Linked DNA regions of Homo sapiens: all the other regions are reported to be linked to region 4. The links are microRNA targets in miRTarBase. Many come from high-throughput screens and were not tested one by one. Region 4 holds a microRNA gene; each other region holds the end of a gene's coding sequence.
Evidence for each region. The annotated mature microRNA hsa-miR-6769a-5p reads AGGUGGGUAUGGAGGAGCCCU and lies in region 4 at 1,084-1,104, shown strand. An mRNA with a match to its seed (bases 2 to 7 or 8) in the 3' UTR can be bound and repressed. Matches are read on the target gene's strand: a 7mer-m8 pairs with bases 2 to 8, a 7mer-A1 pairs with bases 2 to 7 and ends in A, and an 8mer does both.

Region 1 (4,000 bases), not on the chromosome of region 4:
CAGTGGAAAGTCAACCCTTATTCAACATCAGGTAACTCACACTGGTCAGAAACCATGTCATTGCAGTGTGTATGGGAAAGCCTTCAGCCAGAGTTCACAGCTCACACCACCTCAGCAGACTCGTGTTGGAGAGAAACCTGCTTTAAATGATGGCTCTAAAAGATACTTTATTCATATCAAGAAGATTTTCCAAGAAAGACATTTTTAATGTGATAAATGCAGAAGACAGTTTAGCAACTGTTCACTTGACATTAGAAGATAAGATGGCATAATGAAAGATATATAAGGTCTAAATATTACTGGCAAAGTAAAATAAATAGTTCAGATGACTACTAAAGTCAAAGTCATTAAATCTGGAAGTAAACACGAGAATTCATTCTGGGAAATCAGGCTGTCTGTGTAAAGGTTACTGCTGTGCTCAGGAGTTGAACCGTGTGGTGCTGTATCCGGATACTCATGACGAATGGATGGAGGGCGTGAAAAGTGAGCCCAGCTGGTGCTCTGGGTCTACCCTACCTGACATCCTTCCAGTCTTATCCTTTGTTTCCTATCCAGGCCCAGGCTTGTGGCTGAGAACATCCACTTTCAGTCCCATATACCTGCCTCCAAGTGTGGTACAGAGAACTTGGGCCTGCTGGGGGCGCTTAGCCTTACTCTCTCCACCACCTCTCCCACCAACCCCCAGATGAACTGCAGGTAGACGTTTCTTCCTTGCTTGGAGCCCCAGTTTTTGCATTTCATTTTCATTAAAATGAAAGGTGGTTTGGTTTTGGTTCTAAGGAGCTCTACAGTTTAACAGAGAGAGGGACCTTAGGGGCCAAGAAAGCAGGGGCCTACCAAGTATCTCCACTTTTGAAAATTGTAATTACTGATAAAAAATTTTTTAAAGGCAGGTTTATTGAAGCATAATTTATAAACAATAAAATTTACTCTTTTTAGTGTATAGTTCTTTGGGCTTTGACAAAAACATACAATTGTGCCACTACCACATTCCAGACATTGAACATCTTCACCACCACCCAGAATTCCTTTGTGCTCTCTTGTGGTTAACCCCTCCTCAACCCCAGTCCGTGGAAACCACTGGTTTGTTTTCTATCCTCTATCCATCACCTCACCATTTCCAGAAATAGTGTGCAGCTGTTTGCACGTGGCTGCTTTTACTGAACATGATGCATTGGAGTCATCCATATTGCCTGTGTAGAGTGCTTTTTTGCACCGAGTAGCATTCCATTGTATGGATGGAGCCATTTGTTTATCCGTTCACCCATGGCAGGGTATTTGGGCATTTTCAGTATGGGCAACTATGATTAAAGCTGCCATCACTGTGTATCAACTACAGGCTGTTTTGTGAATCTAACTTTTCAGTTATCTTGGGTAAATAGGAGTGGGATTGCTGGGTCATATGGTAAGCTTATGTTTAACATTTTAAGAAACTGCCAAACTTTTACAAAGTCAGTTGTATATCCCCACTGATGATGTGTGAGTTTAGTTGCTTTGAATCCTCACCAGATCTTGGTATTGTCCTTTTTTTTTTTTTTTTTTTTCCGAGGCGGAGTTTTGCTCTTGTTGCCCAGGCTGGAGTGCAATGGCGCGATCACGGCTCACCACAACCTCCGCCTCCCGGGTTCAATTCAAACGGTTCTCCTGCCTCAGCCTCCTGAGAAGCTGGGATTAGAGGCATGCACCACCACGCCCGGCTAATTTTGTATTTTTAGTAGAGACGGGGTTTCTCTATGTTGGTCAGGCTGGTCTCCAACTCCCGACCTCAGGTGATCCACCCACCTCAGCCTCCCAAAGCGCTGGGATTACAGGCATAAGCCAACGTGCCCAGCAGTATTGTCCATTTTTTAATATTCTAGCTATTTTAGTGGAGATGTAGTGGTATCCATGGTTTTAATTTGCATTCTCCTATTGACCATGGTTTGATCAGTAAGCATCTATTTAAAGAGTTTCATTGGGAAGTTTGAATAACACTGTAGTAGTTTCTCAGAGTGTGATCACCTGTGAAATTCTGATCTTCAATTCTTTTTTTTTTTCTCCTTTTTTCTGAAACAAAGTCTCGCGTTGTCACCCAGGCTGGAGTGCAGTGGCACGATCTCAACTCACTGCAACCTCCGCCTCCCAGGTTCAAGCGATTCTTCTGCCTCAGCCTCCCGAGTAGCTGGGACTACAGACGCGTGCCACCACGCCCAGCTAATTTTTGTATTTTTCTTAGAGACGGGGTTTCACCATGTTGGCCAGGGTGGTCTCAAACTCCTGACCCCATAATCCGCCCTCCTCAGCCTCCCAAAGTGCTAGGATTACAGGTGTGAGCCACCACGCCCGGCCTCTGATTTTCAATTCTGAGACTCTACCTGCAAGAATCTTTTTTCTTTTCTTTTCTTTTCTTTTTTTTTTTTTGAGACGGAGTCTCATTCTGTCGCCCAGGCTGGAGTGCAATGGCGCAATCTCTACTCGCTGCAAGCTCCACCTCCTGGGTTCACACCATTCTCCTGCCTCAGCCTCCCAAGTAGCTGGGACTACAGGCGCCCGCCACCACGCCCAGCTAATTTTTTGTATTTTTTAGTAGAGACGGGGTTTCACTGTGTTAGCCAGGATGGTCTCAATCTCCTGACCTCGTTATCCGCCCGCCTCGGCCTCCCAAAGTGCTGGGATTACAGGCATGAACCACCGTGCCCGGCCAAGAATCTTTTTTCAAATCTACCTTTCATTCCCTCCAGGTCTAACTGAAATATTTCCCCCCTTCAAGGAGCCTACCTTAGTTAATCTCTCATTCCATCTTTGTTTTCTTTTTTTCTTTTGAGACAGTGTCTCACTCTTATCACCCAGGCTGGAGTGCAGTGAAGCGATCACAGGTCACTGCAGCCTTGACTTCCTGGGCTCAAGCAACCCTCCGACCTCAGCTCCCAAGTAGCTGGGACTACAGGCACACACCACCATACCCAGATAATTTTTTAATTTTTTGTAAAGATGGTGTCACACCATGTTGCCCAGGCTGGTCTTGAACTCTTGGAGTCAAGCGATCCACCCACCTTGCCCTTCCAAAGTGCAGGTCTTACAGGCGTGAGCCACGGCGCCTGGCCTTACTGTTTTCTTAGGGAATTTGGGGTCACCGCTACATTTGGTTTAACATCCATTCTGTGATTTGCTGCGCTTATTCCCCCGCTCAGGTTCTGTCTCCCCCACTTTATTATTAAAATTCTTATCACAGAACCTCTTCCAAGTGTGGGAATTGCCAGCCTTAGTGTGGTCCATGTGGAATGGTCCACACAAAAGAGGGAGTGGATAGCACAGGCTCACCTGGAGGGTCCTGTCTCCCTCTGAAATGGATTCACTCTGACCTCAGGGAAAACACTGAATCTTCTTGGGTCTCTTTTTCTCCAGCTCTAAAATGGGGGAAAAAAACACCTCCCCCACGTCTAAAAAATAACTCTTTTACCCTTGTATCCCACAGCACAACATTCATATCCCCACCATTTCAACTTACATTTTCCTTTCTACCTCGTTACCCTACATTATACGGAGAACTCTCTGCTGTCAGAGATGTTGTCTTATGCACCTTTTTATCTCCAGCACACGATACAGAACAGGTGCTTAGGATGTACTTGGGAAGGAAGGAAGAGAGGTGAAGGAGGCAGAGAAAGGAAACAGTGCCAAGAATGTGCTTTGCGTAAATGTGAACCTTGTGTTCTGCTTCTGCTCTGTCCATGAGCACACTGGGTACATTAAAATTGTTTTCTCCTTCTGATCTACTGGAAAGGTCCCACAATGATGCCTCCCTTAAGAGGCCCACAGGCCTCACATTTACGTAGAATGGAAGGAAGCACCGGGGCATGGGAGGGCTTGTGGGTGGCTCTAAGGGCTGTTGTGACACGTACTTGCTGTGGACCCTGGGACTGAGGATGTTAGTAGGACAATGCATGGTTAAGCACCAAGAGAGCAAGGGAACACCTCAGGGGTAAAAATGAAGACCGAAATGAAAGTCAGAGCTTCCCACCTG
Region 2 (4,000 bases), not on the chromosome of region 4:
GGCCAAAACCTGCTCAGATCAGAATGGGGCCTGAGGACACTTCTCAATTCATTATCTCCACCTGGCCCAGGAACTGCATCGGGAAACAATTTGCCATGAACGAGCTGAAGGTGGCCACGGCCCTGACCCTGCTCCGCTTTGAGCTGCTGCCTGATCCCACCAGGATCCCCATCCCCATTGCACGACTTGTGTTGAAATCCAAAAATGGAATCCACCTGCGTCTCAGGAGGCTCCCTAACCCTTGTGAAGACAAGGACCAGCTTTGAGGGCCTCCACCTGCCGTCCTGTCTTCCTGACCCCCGCTTCTGTCCCCTTCCTGTCTGCCCATATCCTGTTTTCTGTCTGCCCACCTTCCCTTCTTCCCACCTGCCTGCTGTCCCCCAGTCTGCCTGCCCTTCTCTCTCTCACCTTTCTCCAGGCTCCCTACCTGCTTGTCTACCTGTCTCCTACCCACCTGTATCTCTTGTTGGGAGAAAAGCTGAGTGTTGGGAGAAGCTGAGGCCGAGCTTGCATGTCTGACATAATGTAAAAGAGTCTTGGATCATGTCCAGGATCCAGGGTCTAAAACCCCTTGTGGCCTTTGGAACACCAAGCTCTGTGCTGAAGGGTGGAAGGCTACCCTGACGCACCATAATCTAAGCCCGGGGCATAAAACCCCTCGTGGCTTGGATAGAATCCAGGGCTCGTGGCTCTGGAATGTGTCTGAACTTGCTGCCTCCTCGCTCCTTGCTCTCCCAGGATCAATTGTATCTTGAGTTAAAAGAACCTGCTCTCCATTATCTCAAGTAGCAGAGCAGATGCTAAACCGTCACAGCTGTAAATCATGTGCTTAATGCAACATGCCCTTTCGACCCCCACATTCTCACCACCTGTTTCTTTGTTTGATCACCAATAAATAATCTGCACTTCCAGAGCTCGGGGCCTTCACAGCCTCCATCCTTAGCTTTGGCGCCCTGGACCCACTTTCTCTCTCAAACTGTCTTTTCTCACTGCTTTGACTCTGCCGGACTTTGTCACCCCCACGACCTGGTGTTGGGTCTGAACACCCCAACATCCCTGAATCTCCACCCACCTCCCAAACTCCTGCCTGCCCTCCAGACTGTCTGCCCATACACCTGTCTCCTTCTTCCTGCCTGCTTGTCTGTTCCTATATTAGTTTCCTATTACTGCTGTAATAAACTATCACAATCTCAGTGATTTTAAATAACGACTTTTATTCTCTTACAGTTATGGAGGTCAAAGTCAGATATATGGGTTTCACTGAATTAAAACAAGTTCTGGAGAGGGCCAGACCCCCACCCCCAGAAGGTTTCAGGGAGAGCCCTGCCCCTTGGCTTTTCAGCTCCAGAGCTGCCTTTTTTGCATTCCTTGGTACGGTCCCCTCCTTCCTCTTTAAAGCCAATGGCATCTTCAAATCTCTCTCTCTGTGACTGTCTTCACATCTCTTTCCCTCTTATAAGGACCCTTGTGGTTAGTTACATCAAGCTTATTAAGATAATCAAGGATAATGTCACCACCTCAAGATCCGTTACTTACTCAAAAGTCCATTGTGACATATGCAGTCCCACAATCACAGGTTTCATGAATTAGGATGTGGACAACATGGAGACCCATTGTTCATCCTAGCACAGCCCCTACCGGATTGTCATCCAATGTGTCCATCTAAATCTCTCCTGTATGCTACCTACCTACATACGTGATTGTCAGCCAGACAATCCCTCTATCTTCCCTCTTCTCTAGAATAAGGTTCACAAGCTTGCATGCTTTGTCCAGCTTCACATGGAAGGTGATAGGGTTAGAAGAGGAGACACTAAGGCAGGGAGATAAATCCCTACTGAAGAGGGAAAATGGAGATGAGGTGTGCCCAATTGTGCCAGAACCCTAGCAGGGCCTGGTTTGATCCATCCCCCTGCACACAGCCTCATACCATGTCTCCCCTGGTGCCCACACCCTCTCCAGCTCCTGAGGCTCCCATGGTAGCTGAGTTTAGACAAACGATATTTATCTAGGAGATCAGAGGGAGAAGCTCACACCTGTAGGGAAAAGACTCCAGGCCTCCATTCCATTCAAGATTTAGATTCAAGATGAATCACAGCAAGGCTGAGCTAAGGGCCTGCCTTGCTGTGTTTTGTGTTACTGTAACTGAATACCCAAGGCTGGGTAATTGATCTAGAAAAGAAGTTTATTTTGCTCATGATCTGGTGGCTGAAAAGTTTAAGTTTTGGCAGCTAAATCAGATGAAGGCCTCATGCAGCTTCCACACATGGCAGAAAGCAAAAGGGGAGTGGCATATGCTGAGATTGCATGGTGACAGAGGAAGCAGGAGAGAGACCAAGGAAGCAAGACTCTGTTTTGATCCCGATGTCTTGGAAACCTGTCCATTCCAGATACAGCTAAAACTCAAGCCTGTGAGGTGGAAGGGGGCACTAATCTCTTCATAAAGGATCTGTCTCCACGATCTAAATATCTCCCACTAGGACCCACCTCCCAACACTACTGTGTTGGGGATCAAGGCTTCAGGAGTTTGGTTGGGAACATCCCACATCCCAGCTATAGTGAGGCTGCACTGAGCTGAGCAAGAAAGCCTCAAAGGCCTGGTCTGTCATGAGGATCTTGTAAATTCAGCTATCCACAGCCCCAGTGAGGTGTAGAAAGAGACCCCAGCCTAGCAACGTCACCAGGTACCTGTCAACCTTCCTCACATACGGAACCTGCAGGCTTCTCTGGAAGCTCATGGAGTGGGCAGCTGTCCAGTCAGGGGTGGGAGGAGCCCAGGTAGGCAAATGGGTCTGGCTGGTGGAAGAGGCTGTCAGACCCCAAGCAGCTCCTTCCCAACAGCACAACTTCTTGGTTGTCGTCTGCCTCTCTGGCTGGCCACCCTGATGGGGTAGGGGCATCCTCAACCCTGTCCACACTTGGTGACTGCCTGGGTGCTGGTAGTGCTGACCCTGGGCCCTGTTCCAGCACCCAGGCCCCATGTACTACCCCTGGGATAGTGTCACTGATTGTCCCAGCCTCTCTCAATGCAGACCTTGCTTCTCTTCCTAAATCTGAACCCAGGTGTTCCTCTCACCTGTTGCCCATTCCTAGCCCAGGACCTTGGATGCCATAGAGAGGAATTCCTCTGCCTGAGGTCTGAAAGCTCATTCTGTTACCCTGAAAGAGCTTCTCTTCTAGTTTGTGCCTGCAACTAGGACCTCCCTCCAAGTCCCCTGAGTTCCCCGGTCATTGGATTAATTCAGCCCTGCTCTGAGAACAGGCAGGAAAGGGGAGGGCTGGACAGTCGGTAATCAGCCAGGAGTGGAGGGAGATGGAAACACTGGGAAAGGAGAGTGACCTGGGAACCTCATGGACAGGATGGCCAGCCAGTCACCTGGCATCAGGGGATTTACAAGGGCTCATGTTGGCCATACTCAAAGACCACAGGACAGTGTGCACTCACTCCCATTACTACCCCTAATACCTGGTTGAAAAGATGAGGGGAAGGGAATCATATAAGTGAAAGTCTCATTGCAATTGGAGAGGTGGAGACCTCAGAGTGATCAAAGAGATAGGGAAGGTGCACAAGGAGGGAGAACCTGAATATCTCTATGTAAAAGAATGATGTTGAAGTTTTACATACATGATATACAAACTAAAAAAAAAATGGATAGAAGGATTGAAAGATAGCCCACAGAATGGCAGAATATATTCACAAATCAAATGAGAACATGTAAAGGACTCCAACACACAACAACAAAATACTACAATCCCATTCAAAAATTCAAAGGACTTCAATAGAAACTTCTGCAAAGAAGATATGCAAGTGATCCATAAGTGCACCTGGAAAGATGCTCAACTTCATTAGTCATTGGGGAAATGCAAATCAAAACCACAGTGAGATACCACTTCATATCCTTTAGAAAGGCTATAATTATTTTTTAATGGAAAATATGAAATATTGGACAGAATATGGAGAAATTGAAACTCTTATGAATTACTGGTGAATGTAAATTGGCGT
Region 3 (4,000 bases), not on the chromosome of region 4:
GTTCAGGTAGACTTTCAGACAGGTGGAGGCAGAGGAAACTGCCCTCTCGCATGCTGACATGTCTAGAATATGCAGAGTGGTCAGATCCTCTCCCTGGCCTGTTCCCGGATCTAGGCGTGGGTAGACTGAGTGCTGTGGGAGCCCAGAAAAGGCCTCAGTGACTCTCCATCAGGTAGCTGAGGCTGACCAGGCCATTCTTGCAGGAGGACCTGCAGAGGCAAAGGCCCGGGGTGGGAGAGCGCTCGGCTGTGGGGGCAGTCTCTGCACTGCGCTGACATTCTCTTCTCTTCCTCCCATCCTCTAGGGCCCAGGAGACACCAGCGGGGGCTGCCGCTGCAGGGTAAATGGGATTCCTTGCCACCCAAGCTGTCAGAACTGCCACTGAGCTAAAGATGGTGGGGCCACATGCTGACCCAGCCCCACATCCACATTCTGTTAGAATGTAGCTCAGGGAGCTTCGTGGACGGCCTTGCTTGCTGTAGCGTTGTAGGGGCCCTGCCTGCACTGCGGTTGTCCACGGTCACATCTGCCCCAGTGCCTTTGTCCTTCCCTTGGGGCTTGCCGGCCAGACTTCTCTCCCCTGCGGCTCCCACCTCTGCCTGACCCCAGCCTTAAACATAGCCCCTGGCCAGAGGCCTTGCTGGGTGGAGCCTCTGTGTGACTCCATACTCCTCCCACCACAACACTCATCTGTCAAACACCAAGCACTCTCAGCCTCCCCGCCTTCAGCTGTCAGCTTTCTGGGGCTAACTTCTCTGCCTTTGTGGTTGGAGGCCTGAGGCCTCTTGGAACTCTTGCTAACCTGTTCAGAGCCAGGAAGGAGACTGCACAGTTTTGAAAGCACAGCCCGTCAGGTCCGGCTCTGCGTCTCCCTCTCTGCAGCCTGTGTAAGCTATTATAATTAAAATGGTTTTCCGGGAAGGGATGAGTGTGATGTCCTTGAGAGGAAATGAATGTCCTGGCCTGGGACTCTACACACAGGCAGGATCCTGAGGTCTCTGGGAACTGCATCAGAAAGTTGACTTGTCAGTCCATCTGTGGTAGAATGAGGCTGTGACTGAGCACTGGGACCTTTCTACCAGATGTGGACCCCATGCCCAGCCTCAGGGGCAAGGATGCTCTTGGGTCACCGTCAGCCAGGACAGGTGGAGTGTGCAGTGTGTCAAGTCTGCAGAGAAGGATGGGCTTAGGGGCGGGAGGGGAAGTCTTGCCACTCCTGCTCCCTTTTGACCTCTCAGCAGGCATCTAGGGTTGGCAGGTAGATAGTTCAAGAAGGAACGAAGCTGCTGCAGTTGAGGGGTGGGGTTGTCCATCCTATTTTCTCGTCTCAAGCAAGATGGCACAGTATCGATTCAGCAGTATTTACTAGAACCCACTCTGTGCTGGTCGGAGGTTACTAAGACAGGGTCCTGGGATGTTCATTCTCTAAGTCTTTCCTCCGCTCTGTGACCCACCCTCCTTCCCCTTTTGAGATCTGGTATTTGATGCCCAACACATTGTCCACGCTGTGACGTGACCATCATCATAGCAGGCAGAGGGCGCCTCTGCTGCTGAAGGCCTGTGATTTTGTGGGGAAGGGCCTGTTCTAGCAACTGGAAAGGCACTGCCACCTGCCGTTGGATGCCAGGACTCAAGAGCTGGCCCCAGTCACTGTGCGCAGAGCTGTCTGAGAATGTGTGAGTGGACTGGGTCCTTCGGCACTGCCTGCATTGGCTCAGGGCAGTCAACCGTCGCAGAGGATGAGGGGCACACTCAGGCAGCCTCCCCGGCCCTGGAGGCAGAAAGGCCCAGGCAGAACCACTGACTGGGAGGAAACAGAAAAAGCAGAGGAGAGCCAGGCTGCAGGCGTGTGGATGGGACCAGCTCAGGCAGACGCTGTCTCATACCCACTCTCCCCTCTCTTGCCAGGGCCTGGCCTGGTGTCTCTCAGGAGCCTGGGCATGAGACAAAAGCAGAGATTGTTCTCTTGTGGTACCACAGGCTGTAACCAGTCCACCCAGTGTTGTTTTAGAAATTTAAATCGGTTGCCCATCTTTTTAAATTGGCAACATCGTTTACCACATTAAAATCTAGATGCCCTGCTTCTCTTGAAAATGTCAAAGCTTGGTAATGCCAGGTCCTCACTTCTACCTGGGGGGAATGGAGTCACAGAGATGTCAAATCTCTTCATGGGGTGTACACCCTCCAGTTTGCCACAGTCCTCACCACCCCAGGACTCACGCCGAGGCCTTTCCAGTGCCCTTGCACCATCCTTTTTCTCGTAAGAGGAAGATGAAGTGGGGCTCTACGCGCGGCGTATCACAGGTGAGGGCGAGACCAGCAGAGAGGGCTGTGCTGGCTGTGGCTTTGCTCGGCCTGCCCCATCCATGCTGCAGTGGTGCGGAGGAGCAGGGAGCTGTGTAGGGCCAACCCCGGTTCCTGCCTCAGCTCCACCCGCCTTGCACCTGCAAGTGAAAGGTCTTAAGACGAGCAGGCCCAGGGCACCCTCTACTGCAGGGTCAGGTGGAGGTGCCTCCACCTCCCAAGGCTCACCCATGCCAGGGGCCCAGAACTTGAGAGGCCAGCACCAACTCTCCAGGGCCGAACGAAAACCAAACCCCAGGGCTTTGGACTCAAACCATCGAGAGGAAGCAGCAAGAGGTCCCAAAGGTACTTGAGTGACACAATGATCATCATTCTCTCCTCAGGGGCAGGACAGGGGCAGGGGAAGGTGAGTGGAAGCCCATTGCTCAGATAAAGAGCAGCTGCCACGGAGGGTAGCCCGTCGGCCTATGCCGGCGCTCACTGGTGTCTTCCTCTAGTGCTTGGGGCTGGCATGGAATCTGCTCAAATGCAGGCAGCTGAAGGTGAGCCCGCAGCCTGGTGATCCCAAGTGCCAACCATGAGGAAGTCTGGAGAAAAGACCAGGGAGCAGGGGCCCTCGTGAGGAGCAGGAATTGGCAGCAGGGGCCACCAGCAGAACACCAGAGGGGACAGTGGCAGGGGGAGGAAGATACAGCCAGGCTGGGTCTCAGCCCCAGCTGAGGGTCTCACCTCTTAGCTGGTGAAGGCTCCGGCCTGTTCCTGCTTTCGGTCACCACTTCATCCCTGGGTGATCGTGGGCCCGGTGCAGGGCTGGCTACAAGTGTTTGTTGATTGGTAACTGCTCATGAAAATGGCAACAGCACTAGCACAGCTTCACAAATAGAAACACATTTCACCAACACCCTTGCAGGAAGCCCTCCAGGAGGGCCAAGACCATCCCTGCTTTACTGTTATGGACGTGAGCCTCCGAGAGGCAGTGACTTAGATGCTCACCCAGCCAGGAAGGAAGGAACACACTCGACCCTCAGTCTAAGACCCCATCAGGCCACTAATAATTCTCCCTCCAAACCCAGCTCAGGTCAAGGCCTATCTTCACCCCCAAATCATCCCTAAGGCAGCCTCAACTCTCCACAGCACTACAGCCATCCTGCCCGGCCCCAGTGCTCCACAGACCCTAAACCCGAGCCCTCCCGGGCTTTGTTGGCCCCAAACCACCTACACTTGTTACGTGTTATTTTTACACTGGCGTTTCCCCTCAGCCTTGCATACTGTGTGGTGTTGTCTGACACCACTTTTCCAGCTCTCTGACACCAACTGGGGCTAGTGTCAGGTTCCACAGATTAAAGGGCTCAGTCCCACACTTCCGATGGAGTCACAGATGGGGTGCCCAGGCTACCCACACTTCCTGGGCTACCCACACTTCCTGGGCTACCCACACTTCCTGGCCAACTACACATTCAGGGGTTCCCATGACTCCACCCCCTCAGGTTCAATAATTTGCCTGAGTGACTCAGAACTGAAGATCACCCTGCCCTGACGCTTCCTGGTGTGGTGTCCTCAAGGATGCAGTGTGGGCAGGAACAGCCACGCTTGAGATGAACAGGGTTAGGGATGGGAGCGACTGGCAGCCACTGCAATCTCAAGTTTTGGGGTTTTTTTTGTTTTTTTTTTGAGACGGAGTTTTGCTCTGTTGCCC
Region 4 (4,149 bases):
TTTATTTTGTTTTGTATTTTTGAGATGGAGTCTCACTCTGTCGCCGAGGCTGGAGTGCAGTGGCATGATCCCAGCTTACTGTAGCCTCCACCTCCTGGGTTCAAGTGATTCTTCTGCCTCAGCATCCCGAGTAGCTGGGACTACAGGCACGCGCCACCATGCCTGGCTAATTTTTGTATTTTTTGTAGAGATGAGGTTTTGCCATGTTGGCCAAGCTGGTCTCAAACTTTTGGGCTCAAGTGATCCACCAGCCTCGGCCTCCTACTAAAGTGCTGGGATGATAGGTGTAAGCCACTGCACCCGGCCATCTGTTAGCTTTTTAGAAGAGAGTTTGTCCAGGTGCAGTGGCTTATGCCTATGATCCCAGCACTATGGGAGGTGGAGGCAGGAGGATTGCTTGAGCCTGGGGATTCCAGACCAGCCTGGGCAATGTAGCGAGATCCTGTCTATTTAAAATGTAAATCACAATAAACAAAAGAGAGGTGCAGCAAACTCTAGCAGGTCCAGGTCCCTGCAGGTACCAGGGGAACAGGAGACCCCAGTGATGGTCAGGGCCTTGTGTTGAGAGAGCTGACCAGCAGGCCCTGGGCTCCCTGGAGTGGTGCTCCTGGCCCATGGTCTCTGGGAAACCCAGCAGCACAAACCGCTTTGCAATGTGGTCAGCGTGAGGCTTTTTGGTTGCAAGTGGGTGGCAGGACAGAATCAGCTTGGAGACATTGCTTTGGCGTCTTTGAAACCAGAGAGGCTTCATGCCTTTTGGAAGGAGGATCTGGAAAGCAGTGGGAACTTAGGCTGCTGTCTGGTGCCTTCAGGCGTCAGCTCCTGCTTTCCTCGTGGGGCTGGTGGTGGTGGAGCCAAGTGGTGTTGGGGGTGGTGAGGCGGTCAGGGGGTGGTGGTTGGGCCTGTGGGTTGGCTTCAGGCCCCCAGTAGTGGGGAGAGCCACCGGCTCCAGCCCTGTTCCAGGTGCTGCTGGTTGGGTGGGGGCAAGCAGCAGGTTTTCCCTGCCCTTCTCCTGGCCCCCAGGGGTTGAGCTGGACTGACCCCTGGTATGGAAGCCTGGTAAGTTGGAGGCAGGGCTAGGCCAGGTGGGTATGGAGGAGCCCTCATATGGCAGTTGGCGAGGGCCCAGTGAGCCCCTCTCTGCTCTCCAGGTGGACCGGGTCAGCTACCTCCTGCAGGAGATCTATGGCATTGAGAACAAGAACAACCAGGAGACCAAGGTGTGTATCTGGGTGAGGTTTCCCTCTGCCATTACAGAAGCCCACACCAGGAGCAGCCGCGGACAGCAATGCTTGCCGGTTCCCTTCCATGCCTTCCCCTGGAGTCCTAGACCCGCTAGACAACATCATTTTTCCTTAATTTTTTTTAAAGCTAACAGTTTAGGGAACATTTTATCCTTTCTCCAGCAAATTCACTAGCTTCTGATGTAAATTGCCATCCAGGTTCCCCAGGGCAGCCCAGGAATGGGGGCCAGTGTCTCACCCTCTAGGCTCAGGTGTGTGGCACCCTGCTGCCCGGCTCCTGCCCGCCTCCCCAGAGACAGCACGTCCCTGCAGCTCCTGGGGGAGGGATGCTTATTCTGTATGTCCATAGAACCAGTCCTGGTGCCTGACAAATAAGCCGTGGTGTACCCCAGTCAGGGAATGTAGCAGGGGATGAAATTAGTTTTTTTTGTTTTTGTTTTTTGAGTCAGTCTCACTCTGCTGCTCAGGCTGTAATGCAGCAGGGAGATCTTGGCTCACTGTGGCCTCCGCCTCCCGGGTTCAAGCGATTCTCCTGCCTCAGCCTCCTGAGTAGCTGGGACCACAGGCACGCGCCACCACACCCGGCTAATTTTTTGTATTTTAGTAGCGACGGGGTTTCACCATGTTGGCCAGGATGGTCTTGATCTCCTGACCTTGTGATCCACCCTCCTCGGCCTCCCAAAGTGCTGGGATTACAGGCGTGAACCACCGCGCCCAGCCTAATTTTTAATTTTTGTATTTTTAGTAGAGATGGGGTTTCACTATGTTGGCCAGGCTGGTCTCAAACTTCTGATCTCAAGTGATCTGCCTGCCTCAGCCTCCCAAAGTGCTGGGATTTCAGGCCTGAGACCACCACGCCTGGTCGATGAACTTGTTAAAAGGCACACTGACATGAGTGAAACTCCTGCCTCTTAAGATCTCTTGGAAAGTCTCACAGGCCCGCTTCATTATGGCATCTGGGCCCAGGACAACTGGAGCAGCTCCACGTGGCGGGAGCGGAGCACCTGGCCGGGCCTCGCCTCAACCCAGGGAAGTCAGTGCATTCATGTTTCATACCAGGGGGCGGCCCACTTTGAGAAAAGGTTCAGAGAGGGAATGTTTTCAGCCGCCCGGGCATATGGTCTCTGTTGCACTGACTCCACGCTGCCATTACAACAGGAGCAGCGGGGACTGTATAAAAATGAGTGGGTGTGGCGGTGTTCCAGTAAGATTTTATTTATAGAAACAGGCCACAGGCCTAGTTTGTGGACACCTGTTTTAGATTTTTGGCTTTCTTTTTGTCCAGTTGCTAATGTGGTTTCTGGTAGCTGCCATTAATGAAAATACTTCTAACATATTAACTTGTTTTTTGTTTTTTTTGTTTGTTTGTTTTGAGATGGAGTCTTGCTCTGTTGCCCAGGCTGGAGTGCAGTGGCAGCCATCTTGGCCCACTGCAAGCTCCGCCTCCTGGGTTCACGCCATTCTCCTGCCTCAGCCTCCTGAGTAGCTGGAACTACAAGCACGTGCCACCATGCCCGGCTAATTTTTTGTATTTTTAGTAGAGACGGGGTTTCACTATGTTAGCCAGGATGGTCTCGATCTCCTGACCTCGTGATCTGCCCGCCTCAGCCTCCCAAAGTGCTGGGATTACAGGCGTGAGCCACCGCGCCTGACCATTAACTTGGTTTTTTTTAAACCAAAGATAACGGGTACCCTGACCCTCAGGAAGATGTGTTTCTTAGGTGCATCTGTTCCTCATTTTTTCTTTAGGTCTGAAGAACAGAAAGAGACCATGTTCTCATGATTTGGGTGGGTGAGGGGCACAGACCCTCCCCCTCTGCCAGGTGCTGAGTTTGCACTGGATTTGAGCCTGGTGATTCTGCTCTGGGGCAACCTCCCCCTCCCCTCTGGACTTCTCTTTGTCATGACAGCCCCCAGGGTAGGGTGGAGTGGGGTGGGACAGCTGGGGACAGGAAGCAGGAGCCGTACTCTGGCCTTTGGGAGGCTGCTGACCCACAAGCCCTTGTCCCGGCAGCCCTCGGACGACGAGAACAGCGACAACAGCAACGAGTGTGTGGTGTGCCTGTCCGACCTGCGGGACACGCTGATCCTGCCCTGCCGCCACCTGTGCCTCTGTACCTCCTGCGCCGACACGCTGCGCTACCAGGCCAACAACTGCCCCATCTGCCGGCTGCGTGAGTTCCCCGGCCGGCTGTTCTGTGGAAGGTTCTGGAAATTAGGGACTGGCCACACCACGGTGGTCCTGGGATAGGGGGCCACAGGTCCGTTGATGGCTAAGAAAGAAGAGTTGTCATTCATCTAGTCTGTGCTGAACGTGGGCGTGTTGGCTGTCGGAGTCAGTCACCGTGAGAGAGCTGGCAGGGACGCTAGCACGGGGCATTCAGATCTTCACGTCTGCCTCCAGCCAGGCAAGGCTTGCAGAACAAAGGGCTACAGAGGCGCTCCAGGGCAGATGAACTGAACGAAAATTGATGAGTGAATGAAATCTTTATTCTTATTTTATTTTTATTATTTTTTGTTTGAGACAGTTTCGTGCTGTCGCCCAGGCTGGAGTTCAGTAGCGAGTTCTCAGCTTACTGTAACCTCTGCCTCCTGAGTTCAAGCAATTCTCCTGTCTCAGCCTCCCTAGTAGCTGGGATTGCAGGCAACTGCCACCATGGCCAGCTAATATTTTACTTTTATTAGAGATGGGGTTTTGCCATGTTGGCCAGGCTGGTCTTGAACTCCTGGCCTCAAGTAATCTGCCTGCCTCAGCCTCTCAAAGTGCTGGTGTTACAGGCATGAGCCACCATGCCTGGCTATTTTATTTTATTTTATTTTTTTGAGATAGAGTCTCGCTCTGTCACCCAGGCTGGAGTGCAGTGTTGCAGTCTCGGCTCACTGCAAACTCCGCCTCCCGGGTTTA
Region 5 (4,000 bases), not on the chromosome of region 4:
TTTGAATGTAAAGAATGTGGAAGATCCTTTAGAAATTCCTCATGCCTTAATGATCACATTCAAATTCACACTGGAATAAAACCACACAAGTGTACTTACTGTGGGAAAGCCTTCACTAGATCAACTCAACTTACTGAACATGTAAGAACTCACACTGGAATAAAACCCTATGAATGTAAGGAATGTGGCCAAGCCTTTGCTCAGTACTCGGGCCTTTCTATACACATACGAAGTCACAGTGGAAAGAAACCCTATCAGTGTAAGGAATGTGGGAAAGCCTTCACTACATCCACAAGTCTTATTCAGCATACAAGAATTCACACAGGAGAGAAGCCTTATGAATGTGTTGAATGTGGGAAGACCTTCATTACTTCTTCCCGTCGTAGTAAACATTTGAAAACTCATAGTGGAGAAAAGCCCTTTGTATGCAAGATATGTGGGAAAGCATTTCTATATTCCTCACGCCTTAATGTTCACCTGCGAACTCATACCGGAGAGAAACCCTTCGTATGTAAAGAATGTGGGAAAGCATTTGCTGTTTCCTCACGCCTAAGTAGACATGAAAGAATTCACACTGGGGAGAAACCCTATGAATGCAAGGATATGAGTGTTACCATTTAGCCCATCGGTTGCCATCTTTAATTATTGGCAATGACACCAAAGATTATCAGATTTGTCCTAAATGCCTTTTGGAGGTTGTAATGACTCATGGATTGGCCTTAGATACCATCCTGAGGGTCTGAAATTAAACCTACAGGTTCTGAATACAACATCATGGTTGCCTGAGTCTGGGCATCTGTGAAGAAGGGTCATGGATGGTGAGGTCAGTACTGCAGGCTGCCTCACCTTGGTGATTAGATTCCTAAGATCATAGCATTAACAAGTTGTGTATGAGATAAATCATGCAGATTGACCCCAGCCCCTGTTGGTTAGTGGCTGCCAGTGTGGCACATTTATGTCAAAATTTACCAGAAGCCAAGATGATGTAGGACCCCAAAGGTGGGTTGTTAAGAGATGCTCCTCCAAGGGTCTCTTCTGATCCCACGGATCCTGCAGAGCGTGTCAGGAATGAAACCATCCATAACTGCCAGTGCCCTTTCACAGCTGATTATTTCTGTGTCCCCTTGTAAAATCTAAGAAGTGTGACAGCCTTGCCTGTTCTGCCTTGTATGTCTATTTTAGATGGCACAATGTAAGTGGCAATGTCTCTTCTAGTATAATCCAGTCTCTCTTCTCACTTCTGTCAAGGTGGCTGATATAGTCCATGAATCCCACTCATGATCTCTTTATCAGATGATCGTTCAGCCACACTTTGAGGATTCTCTTCAGTACAAGTTTTCTAATTTTTGCATTATGGATAGGCTGAGAATTTTCCAAATCTCCAAGTTCTGGTTCCTTTTTCCTTAACAATTTTTTCTGCAATTCAGGTCTCCTTTTGCATTTTTGCTGAGACCAGCTGGGTCATGGAGACCCTGACCCAGCAGCTCTAGAGGAATTAAGACAAAGACACAGAAATAGAGTGCAGAGTGGGAATCGGGGCTCACAGCCTTCAGAGCTGAGAGCCTTGAACAGAGTTTGACCCACATATTTATTGACAGTAAGCCTGTGATAAACATTATTTCTATAGATTATAGATTAGCTAAAAGTATTCCTTACAAGAAAGAAAGGGACAGGCTCTGGCTTGTTATCTGCAACAGGAACATGTCCTTAAGGCACAAATCACTCATGGTATTGTTTGTGGTTTAGGAATGCCTGAGCAGTTTTCCAGTTTTCCACCGTGGGTGGGCCAGGTGTTCCTTGCCCTCATTCGGGTAAACCAGCAACCTCCAGCATGGGTGTCATAGCCATCACGAGCATGTCACAGTGCCGCAGAGATTTTGTTTATGGGCAGTTTCTCATGGCCTGTTTATGTCCAAATTTGGGGGGCCTGTTCTGAGCACATTTTCCTGTAAGCACTCAGGAAGAATGAAGCTTCCTGTGTCCTTTAACACTTTAAGTACAGATCTTAGTGATACATAACCAGTTTTATCTCTCTCAAGCTCTACCTTCCGCAAAGTGCTAGAATACAGTTCTGCCAAGTTCTTCACTACTTCGTATCAAGGGTTGTATTTTCTTTATTTCCCAATAGCATGTTCCTCATTCCCCAATGACACCTCACCAGGATCACCCTTACCAACCTTACTTCCAGCTTGCACATCAGAATTTTTCCAGCCTCATTTGTCAGTTTCAAATCTGCTTCACATTTTTAGTTTTTTTGTTTGTTTGTTTTTAATCTGCCTTAATGAGCTCAGGCCACTATCACAAAATACCACAGACCAAATGGCTTACAAATTTGTTAATTTTAAATAAATGAGGTTAAAAACAAATTTATATTCTCACATTTCTCGAGGCTGGAAGTCTGAGATCAGAGTGCCAGCATGGTCAACTTCTGGCGAGAGCTCTCTTCCTGGTATGTAAATGCCCACTTCCTCATGTCTTCACAGGAAGGAAACCAACAAATAGGTCTCTCTCTCCTCTCTCCTTTCTCCTCTCTCCTCTCTCCTCTTTCTCTCTCTCTCCCCACCATCTCTCTCCTTCCCCTCCCTCCCCCTCCCTCCCCCTACCCATCTCTTGACATCATTTCACGATACTTCTAAAGAGCCTATTTTCAGGCCGGGCGCGGTGGCTCACACCTGTAATCCCAGCACTTTGGGAGGCCGAGGTGGGCGGATCACGAGGTCAGGAGATCGAGACTGTCCTAGTTAACACGGTGAAACCCTGTCTCTACTACAAATACAAAAAATTAGCCTGGCGTGGTGGCGGGTACCTGCAGTCCCAGCTACTCGGGAGGCTGAGGCAGGAGAATGGCATGAACCTGGGAGGCACAGGTTGCAGTGAGCCGAGATCGCAGCCACTGCATTCCAGCCTGGACAACAGAGCGAGACTCTGTCTCAAAAACAAAACTAAAAAACCCTATTTTCACATACAGTCACATTGGGATTTGGAGCTTCAACATATGAATTTTCAGGGTTATCATTCAGTCCAAAGTACTTAATATGATTCTTTTCCGTTTCCACATAGACAATCACATAATCTGTAAATAATGACTCTTACTTTTCCACTTTAGTCGTTAGGTTATACCTATATATATATTTTCTTGCTTTACTGGACTAATTTCAACCTCCAGCACACCACCAATGAATAGCAGTAATACCAGCATAATTGTCTGCAGTTCTGCTGAGATACGTGCTCTATTTTATTGGCTTGGCTGTAGGTTTTTATTTTATTTTTTGAAGAGGCTAATCTCTTACAGGAAAGGTTTCTTTTTATATCCAGTTTTTACATGATGAATGATTTCCCAGTATTTCATAATTCATGAGGCTGAATTCCTCTTGAATTTATTAAATGCTTCCTGTGCATCCTCTGTGATGATCATGTTTATTTACTGCTAGAACTCAAGTACCTAGAACTGTTCCTGGCCAATGATGGTATGTAATAAATACTTCAATGAAATGATGTGGTGATGCATGTCTATAGTTCTAGCTACTTGGGAGGATGGCCTGAACCCAGGGGTTCTAGACCAGCTTAGACAACATAGCAAGACCACATCTCAAAAAACAAAAAACAAAACGAATGAATGAATGCATGGAAGGACTCATCTCTAAAATAAATGTGGTCAGGTTGGGTGTGGTGGCTCATGCCTGTAATACCAGCACTTTGGGAGGCAGGGATGGGCAGATCACTTGAGGTCAGGAGTTCGAGACCAGCCTGGCCAACATGGTGAAGCCCCATCTCTACTAAAAATACAGAAATTAGCTGGGTGTGGTTGTGTGCACCTGGAATTCCAGCTACGCAGGAGGCTGAAGCAGGAGAATCGCTTGAACCTGGGAGGTGGAGGTTGCATTAAGTGTAGATTGTGCCACTGCACTCCAGCCTTGGTGACAGAGTGAGACTCCATCAGAAATAAAATAAAATAAATGTGTTTTTGTATTTATTACATTTCTAGTGTTACATCAACCTT

Region 1: the mRNA of ZNF251 is a reported target of hsa-miR-6769a-5p. Seed matches in the 3' UTR shown: 7mer-A1 at 671-677.
Region 2: miRTarBase lists CYP4A11 as a target of hsa-miR-6769a-5p. Seed matches in the 3' UTR shown: 7mer-m8 at 449-455 and 7mer-m8 at 1,067-1,073.
Region 3: the mRNA of RBCK1 is a reported target of hsa-miR-6769a-5p. Seed matches in the 3' UTR shown: 7mer-A1 at 674-680 and 7mer-m8 at 1,449-1,455.
Region 5: miRTarBase lists ZNF561 as a target of hsa-miR-6769a-5p. Seed matches in the 3' UTR shown: 7mer-A1 at 2,559-2,565.

What each region holds. Positions count from the first base shown.
Region 1 is chr8:144,717,852-144,721,851 of GRCh38, reverse strand. It overlaps ZNF251 (zinc finger protein 251), which reads left to right. Exons shown (of 5, transcript NM_138367.2): 5 at 1-943. The coding sequence ends at 208. Among named protein-coding and RNA genes, the nearest start is that of ARHGAP39, 34 kb to the right of the region's middle.
Region 2 is chr1:46,926,381-46,930,380 of GRCh38, reverse strand. CYP4A11 (cytochrome P450 family 4 subfamily A member 11) reads left to right here. Exons shown (of 12, transcript NM_000778.4): 12 at 71-1,193. The coding sequence ends at 266. Among named protein-coding and RNA genes, the nearest start is that of CYP4A11, 13 kb to the left of the region's middle.
Region 3 is chr20:430,046-434,045 of GRCh38, forward strand. It overlaps RBCK1 (RANBP2-type and C3HC4-type zinc finger containing 1), which reads left to right. Exons shown (of 12, transcript NM_031229.4): 12 at 305-2,094. The coding sequence ends at 385. Among named protein-coding and RNA genes, the nearest start is that of RBCK1, 24 kb to the left of the region's middle. RefSeq lists enhancers at 1-425, 426-926.
Region 4 is chr16:4,670,240-4,674,388 of GRCh38, forward strand. It overlaps MIR6769A (microRNA 6769a), which reads left to right and starts at 1,079; the gene lies at 1,079-1,151. MGRN1 (mahogunin ring finger 1) reads left to right here. Exons shown (of 17, transcript NM_015246.4): 9 at 1,152-1,220; 10 at 3,259-3,418. RefSeq lists enhancers at 2,829-3,418, 3,419-4,006.
Region 5 is chr19:9,606,821-9,610,820 of GRCh38, reverse strand. It overlaps ZNF561 (zinc finger protein 561), which reads left to right. Exons shown (of 6, transcript NM_152289.3): 6 at 1-3,492. The coding sequence ends at 621. Among named protein-coding and RNA genes, the nearest start is that of ZNF561, 12 kb to the left of the region's middle.